2 linked regions of the Homo sapiens genome follow. The protein of the gene in region 1 purifies or fractionates together with the protein of each later gene. This does not show direct contact. Each region holds a gene or a part of one and is shown in the gene's direction. Other genes may lie near its edges. The genes, in order: KIR3DL1 and FAM114A2.

The links.
Region 2: the proteins of KIR3DL1 (region 1) and FAM114A2 purify together in Homo sapiens (affinity purification with mass spectrometry; 3 studies listed by BioGRID and IntAct, with this or other methods). This does not show direct contact.

Annotation. Positions count from the first base shown.
Region 1 is NC_000019.10:54,826,385-54,830,306, forward strand, and holds part of KIR3DL1 (killer cell immunoglobulin-like receptor 3DL1 isoform 1 precursor), read left to right. Parts: intron 1-2,976; coding exon 2,977-3,081; intron 3,082-3,543; coding exon 3,544-3,596; intron 3,597-3,714; coding exon 3,715-3,891; 3' UTR 3,892-3,922. UniProt on the Homo sapiens protein: Receptor on natural killer (NK) cells for HLA Bw4 allele. Inhibits the activity of NK cells thus preventing cell lysis.
Region 2 is NC_000005.10:153,990,125-153,994,046, reverse strand, and holds the end of FAM114A2 (protein FAM114A2), read left to right. Parts: intron 1-936; coding exon 937-1,071; 3' UTR 1,072-3,899; downstream 3,900-3,922.

The DNA of each region.
Region 1 (3,922 bases):
GCTCACTGCAACCTGCGTCTCCTGGATCCAAGTGATTCTCCTGCCTCACCCTCTCGAGTAGCTGGGATTACAGGCAACTGCCACCATGCCCGGCTAATTCTTTTTGTATATTTTTTGTAGAGAGGATGTTTCACCATGTTGGCCAAGCTTGTCTGAAACTCCCAACCTCAAGTGATCCGACCATCTCAGCAACCCAAAGTACTGGGATTACAGGCGTGAGCCACTTTGCCCAGCCAGAATTCAAAATAAATAATAGATAATGCTGAGTGTATAATTTTGGGTGACAGAGAAGGTCTCACTAATCAGATATTTGTGACATTAATGAAAAACACGGATTGAACCCCTGAAAGATTGGCGGAAGGATTTTCCACACACAGCTGTCAGCCGTGAAGGCAGAAAGCTGAAAACAATCTGATGTGGAAGGAAGAGGCTCTGCCTGAAATGCTGGGAATGAGGTGGGGAGAATGACAAGACGACTGTGGAGAGACGGAGAGCACACTGGGTACACAGGAAACTAAGGAGCAACAAGGAGTGTGTGTTTGACACTCACAGCCATTGGATTCACCTCGGGGTAGCCAGGAATCCCTACATGATTAATAGTGACTGACATGAAAATAAGGGAGGCCCAGGTGCGTAACTGGAATCTAGGAGACAGTGGAAAAGGCAATTGCCGCCCCACTGGTGAAATGTGGTGCTGATTTAGACCCTAAGTGGATGAAGCAGATGGATATAAGCTATGTTTGGGAGGTAGAATCATTTGCAGGGAGGGCTTGCTGGGTTTGAGTTTCCTAGTTGTTTAATCCTTGCTAAATTAATTTCTTTCTGAGATTTATTCCTCCTACACATAAATCAATACCTGGCAAAGGAGTGACAGATATATGAGGGGTGGTGGAAATGAAGGGACCTATTATAGCATAGTATACAAGTCTGTGAACGGTGGCTCACTCCTGTAACCCAGCACTGCAGGAGGCTAAGGCCAGTGGATTCCAAGAAGTCAGGAGTTCGAGACCAGCCTGGCCAACATGGAGAAACCCTATCTCTACATGGTGAAACCCTATCTCTCCTAAAAATACAAAAATTAGCCGAGCATGGTGGTGCATCCCTGTAATCCCAGCTCCTGCTCTGGAGGATGAAGCAGGAGAATGACTTCAACCCAGGAGGTGGAGGTTGCAGTGAGTGGAGATCGCATCACTGCACTCCAGCCTGGGTGACACAAGGAGACTCCATCTCAAAAAATAAAAATAAGAAATGCATAAATATAATAAAACACACACGAATGACAAAGGCACCTGAATTCCCATCATCATTTTTCTATTTCTCTATAATTACTTCTTTGATCCTTTATCTTATCCATTAGGCAATCAGCCTAAAACCTCTTCCGTATTTGGCTTTCTGTGAGCATGAGATCATATAGAAAATGTGAAAGCCCGCTGAATCCTCCAGCACAAATCCTGGAATAGAGAAAGTGCTCTGGTCATCACAAAAAAAACTTGCCCCCTCACCCAAATCCCCCATCTCACCCCTACTTCCAATCACCTGTGGAAATACAGATAGATCATGGGGAGGTAAATGCTAATACTCCTTGGAGTGAGTCCAGATCTTGGAATCAGAGATCAGTGCCAGCACTAGCTCCTGCTCCCCTTTCCTACTAATTCACAGGAGGACAGGTGGTATTGAAGCAATAGATAGTCGAGGGGGTGGTCCTTCCCCCAGCCTCTGAGGTAGAACAGCAGCCTAACATGTGTCTCCCGAGATCACAAAGAGTAGCACATTTCACACGGGCTTCAACACTATTTTCTGGCTGTTTGACATAAGAGAATTCTACTTCGCTTTTTTTATATTGATTTCACTTTTGTTTCCTTTTCTTGGAGAATGCAAGTTGTTTAACTCAAGAATGCCGTGGATGTAGAAATCCTAAAGCACATTCGCTGTGTATCAATCCCAGTCCAGTCTTCCCAGAGAAGACTCTAAACACCTCCTGGACTGCACCTGGGCCTATGCCAATTCCTATCACTCACCGTCACTCCAGGGAGACAGAACACACAGAGAATACGTTACATAGGCAGGTTCATTACTAACAGATAAGCAGCGAGTGACAACAGAAGCCTACATTTCAATGTGAGCCAGTTCCCCAAGGCTCAGAAAAGCTGCTCGAGACATGTGGAGTCACCCCATTTGCAGTGTAGCTGGGGGAAGCCAGAAAGCAGCCCAGCCTGGGTTTTGTACCCTGGAGCCACAGGAAGCACTCAGCTAAAGCACTGCATGACGTCCTCCTCCAGGAAGAACAGGAAGACAGCCCAGGCTGTTCTGGGACAATCCTCCTGATCTCAGGACTTTGCTGTCTTAGTCCATTTTTGTTGCTCTAAAGGAACACTTGAGCCTGGGTAACTTCTAAAGAAGAGATTGGTTTGCCTCACCGTTCTGCAGGCTGTACTGGAAGCATGGCACCAGCATCTATTTCTTATGATGGCCTCAGGCCGCTCCCACTCTGGCAGAAGGGAAGGAGGGTCTGTCTGTGCAGAGACCACAGAGATCACACGGCAAGAGAGGGAGCAAGGGGGAGGGGGAGCAATGGAGCTTCCAAGCTCTTTTTAACAACCAGCTCTCCAGGAACTAATAGAGAGGGAACTTGCTAACCCCGTCTCCTTGGGACAGCATTGATCTGTTCATGATGGATCCACCTCCATGACCCAAACACCTCCCAAGAGGCCCAACCTCCCACACTGGGGGTTAAATTTCAATGTGAGGTTTGAAGGGGTCAAACATCTCAACTAAAGTAGTTGTATCCTCAGCACGTTCCATGGTTACTATGAGAGCTATAACTGAGAAAGCAGGAGGAAGCTAGATCTCCCGCCATCTGGGTGCTTGTCCGAAAGAGATGCTGTAAGTGGTTACCTGTCAATCAAGAAATGCAAGACAATTCATATAGAGAAACTGCTATGATTAGCTTCTTACTGGTGTCTCCTCTTCTTCCAGGTAACCCCAGACACCTGCACATTCTGATTGGGACCTCAGTGGTCATCATCCTCTTCATCCTCCTCCTCTTCTTTCTCCTTCATCTCTGGTGCTCCAACAAAAAAAGTAAGTCTCACGGGGCACAGGCCAGAGAGCTCAGGGCCATGTGGGGAAGCAGGATGGGAGCACACAGCTGTGTGTTCCTCACTGGCAGGATGGTCCCTGGCCCAAGACAGGAGCCACAGAGGCAGGACTTTCTAGAGAGAGCACCAGACTCCCTGCCCCTGCCTTCAGCTCACAGACCGTTGCCTGATTCTGAACTGTATCCTCATGTCCCCTGCAGCCACTCACATCCAGGAGAAGGTTCCATGACAGGCAGAAAGTGGGAGACAGAATCAATGGGATGGGAACTCAGAGCTATTCATGGGATGGGTCCTTGAGCTCAGAGAGATAGAATGTCTGAGTCTGCTGTTGGCAACTGAGGGACCTCAGGCACCTATGGCCTCCCCCTGTTTGTTGGTATCTGCTTATGAAATGAGGACCCAGAAGTGCCCTCCGAGCTCTTTTGTTGACTTCCGTCTCCTACAGATGCTGCTGTAATGGACCAAGAGCCTGCAGGGAACAGAACAGCCAACAGCGAGGTAGGTGCTCCTCGGCCCAGCCTCGTGGCTAGTGTTATTCCCAAACAGTCCTGGAAAACGTGAGCACCCTCCCTCACTCAGCATTTCCCTCCCTCACTCAGCATTTCCCTCTCTCCAGGACTCTGATGAACAAGACCCTGAGGAGGTGACATACGCACAGTTGGATCACTGCGTTTTCACACAGAGAAAAATCACTCGCCCTTCTCAGAGGCCCAAGACACCCCCTACAGATACCATCTTGTACACGGAACTTCCAAATGCTAAGCCCAGATCCAAAGTTGTCTCCTGCCCATGAGCACCACAGTCAGGCCTTGAGGACGTCTTCT
Region 2 (3,922 bases), on another chromosome or scaffold:
GCAGTAGAAAAGACTTTGTAAACCAGGAGCCCCGTGTTGCCCTGGATCTTCCTTGATTTGTTGTGTGACTCTGACAAACTTCGTTATTTTCATGTGCAACATAAGAGATTTAACTAGACGATATCTGAGGTCCCTTTTGTGTGGGAAATTGAGTATTAAATGTCACACTGAATTTTAAATAGTACTTGCCATTGATAAATTTTAAAAAGGTAATATCACTTGATATGGGCTCCCTATTATTTTTAGTGGATTTTTTTTTTGGATACAGATTTGAAACACTCTTGTCTTCGAAATTATACATTTTTATCTTAATGAGCTCTCTGTTGATATTCTTTTGAAAGGTGAGGGCTTTTCAGTATAAATGAAGTCCAGCAAACTGAGGGTAATGATTCTCTAACACTTCTGAAAAATGTTGTTCAAGATAGAAATATATCTATACTGTCATCTTTGAAAGCAGTATATGTGTGAAAGATGTTTATGTGTGTGAGCAGTTATTGTGCTCACTGATCGCATTGAGTCCATGGAAAAAGAGCTATCATAATGGGCTAGAAATTCTATAGGTGTAGGATTTATAGCCTTCTGAAAGCCTCTTTCAGTAATTGACCACAATATTGTGACAGAATCTACCCTACTCAATAAAGGAATAAATAAGCTTTGAATGCCAAGTCTGACCATGTTGCCAAAGAAAAGCTACCATGTCTGATGGGCAAGTTGTACAAAATGCTGACATTCTCTTTTGGTGCTCATATCATCTTAAGAGCTAAATTCTTCTCCCTATAATAGAGTTTACCAAAATGGCCAAGTCACTGCTCTTACTTGCCAGGCTATGAATTCAGTTAGATTACAAAAATTAATCTGTTCCCCTGTTGCCTTACAGTATATCTTCTCTTTTAAATAACTAATATTTTCTTTTTCTTGTTTTTTCAATCCTGGCAGGCATCAAACAGTGCCTCCTACATCCAGGACGCCTTTCAGCTACTCTTACCTGTGCTAGAGATCTCTCTCATTGAGAACAAGATTGAATCACACAGACATGAGCTGCAGGGCCAGAAACCTTTGTTAGAACATTGAAGAATGGAGACGTTTTGACCTGGGACTTGTGACGGCCAAGGAATGCCACCTTATTCTGGCTACTCCTGCAGAAATGAAGGAGTGGGGTTATTTTAGTATATAAAAATTCAGGCAGGAGAGATGGTTTAAAGAGGAAGATTGTTGCCTTCAGTGTTTGATTGAAGTATTCAGGTTCTCACAGTATTCTTTCCAGTTGTTGTAATTCATAAATTATTTGAAAAGAAACTTTTGTAGAAAGTCCAAGAATAATAACTCTAGATAAAGATTAGTGGGACACTCAGGCAAAAATGTTGGTCTTTCTTTGACATGTTGCAAAATGTTATCAATTTTGTCATGGATATAATTTGCAGCCCATGGATATAACTGGTTGATAAGCCAGAGAAAAATAATTTAGTGTTCTAAAATTCATGGCATGTGTGGTTTATTAATGCCATGTACTTTCTCCTTTCTGGAATAAAATCTATGGCTTTAAGAAAACTGAGCATATGTAAACTCTGTGATGATTACCCTTTATCACATGAATTCTTGGAAATAGAAAGTTTCATCTGCTTTTTTAAATTCTTAGTAGATATTTGGCATTGAGGAGAAACTTGTAGACTATTATAGCCATGTGAATTAACTGTAGCAAAGTGCCCTTTTTCTTCAAATTGCTCCCCCTCCCCAGGATGACACACTTCATGTCATAGCTGAACCCTACTCTACTGGATTCAAGGCCAGTAAATGCAATTTAGAGAAGCAGTTTTATGTTTGCAGATATTCTGAGTCTCTTCAGGATGTGTTTCGTGTCTACCATATATGCAGGATAAATTCTTTAACAGCAAACTCCAAAGGAATGTTGAAGCTGTTTTAGCAATGAGGATTTTTTTGTTTGAGTGTTGAAGTGGGCCATAGTCCTTTAGAAATGATGTTCATTTATGATAGGATTTAACTTCTAAGGCATAGTTTATTTTTTCCTCTTTCCTTTTTGTTTGTTTTAATGTATTCTTTAGCATGTTTTTGATATAACTTTTATCCTCCAGATCTTAAGCTTTCTTTTGCTCTCTTCAGCAATTTAAGAGACTATTAAGCTGTCGTCTTCCTAAAAGCTATTTTGGTATCCACTCTTTTTAAAAAAATTCTCCAACTTTGTGGTTTTTTAATGATTAAGGTAATTTGTTAGCTCTGCCCCTCATCTTCTAAAACCTTTGTAATAAAATGTATTAATCATGTTATTTGATCCTTTCATTTACTTTTGTAAACACGAGCCCTAATATCTTACTTAGACCAAAAAAAAAAAAAAAAAATAGCAAAGCAAAGCCATAACATAGATTAGTATAAAGACTGTTTCTACGTAATCTTCTTTGGGGCAGGAGTCAGTTAGTAAGCAAGGAAGAGAAATAAATTTGGTTTAAAAAGGTATACCAACAGCACTACAATGTTACTCTGCCTATATTCTGTCTTAATATGATCAGAAAGTTTTTGAATATTCCTTTTTAAAGACAAATTTCACCCTTTCCAGCTTGAATATTTCTGAAGTTTCAGAAAAACAGTTGCCTTCTGGTTACAAAGGCTGGTGTCACCAGTTCTGAATTGTTGCCTCAAGCTTGGTTGATGTGTCTGAACCTGTATCCCTTGAGGGCAAAGTTTAGAAACTGGTCACTCTGCCTACTGTCTGTTCAGCCTCTTGTACAATGGCAGTTTGGCAGCTTTAAATCCTTAACCTAGAAATGTATTTAAGGTTTTTCTTTCAAGAAATGGGGTATACATATGAAGGAGAGAGTAACAACTCTTTTTATACACCTATTCAGATTTCAGCCCTGAATTTGGCAAATTTTAGATTAGGTCTCACATAAGGTAAATATGACTCACTAACTCTTTTTTTCTCATCTTCCCCACCCCCCCATATATATTTATTTATTTTAATGGAGTTAGGGACCACTAGTGAAATGATGAAAGGCCCAATTCTGAGTAACAATTGTCTACTCTTCACATAAAATATACTGAAAAAGAATTAAGATTCCTTGATCCAGTAGACATAGAGAAACATAAACATTCATGACAGATGAGTAGGTAAATTCAGGGATCACTTTGGAACTTGCTGGATTATGGTGATGGTTTTTGGATAGTATGTGCTTCATTATTTTATTTGGGGTAGTTACAGTGTTTTAGTTTTTTGTTAACAGCTACACTTTTGGTACTATTTTCCTTTTAAATTTTTGGTGTCTAAGATTTACCACTAATTACTAATATATGCCTTTCCAATTCACTTAAAACCTTAATAAGTGAAATGTTCAGGTATTGCTAGGGTAAATGTGTCTTTTCCTACTATTGAGATTTTAAAAGGCTGTGATTAAGAGAGACTTTATTAATTTGATCTGAAAGAAGTAGAAACCTCTATGAAACAATTTTTATTTTCCTTTGCATAATACCTTAGAAATGTGTTAAGGACAAGCTATATTTTCCTTACTTGCTTTTGATAGTTTTTTTTTTTTTTTTTAAGCATAGATATCCAGGTTGGCAGGCCTCTGAAATGTGAAATTGTAATTTTTATAGATGGCATTACTATGAATCTGAAATCAGTGCTAGGTGTACAAATGTGAATTTTTCAATCCTGTAATCAAAGAACAAGATCTTGTGGGTTCCTACTGCTGAAAAAGGATGCTTTCTTTTGTACTTGTTTTTAGTGAAAGACCTTTTTGAGGGAGAGCTATTTTATAGGTAGTTGCTATTGATATCTCCATTTGAGAAATAGACATTTTTCTGTATTTCTAGAGGTGTTCTGAATTTTAAACCTGAATTCTTCAGTTTAGAAAACCCAGAATAAAATTATACCCACAGTGGGCACTCAACAAGTGTGATATTTCACAAATGT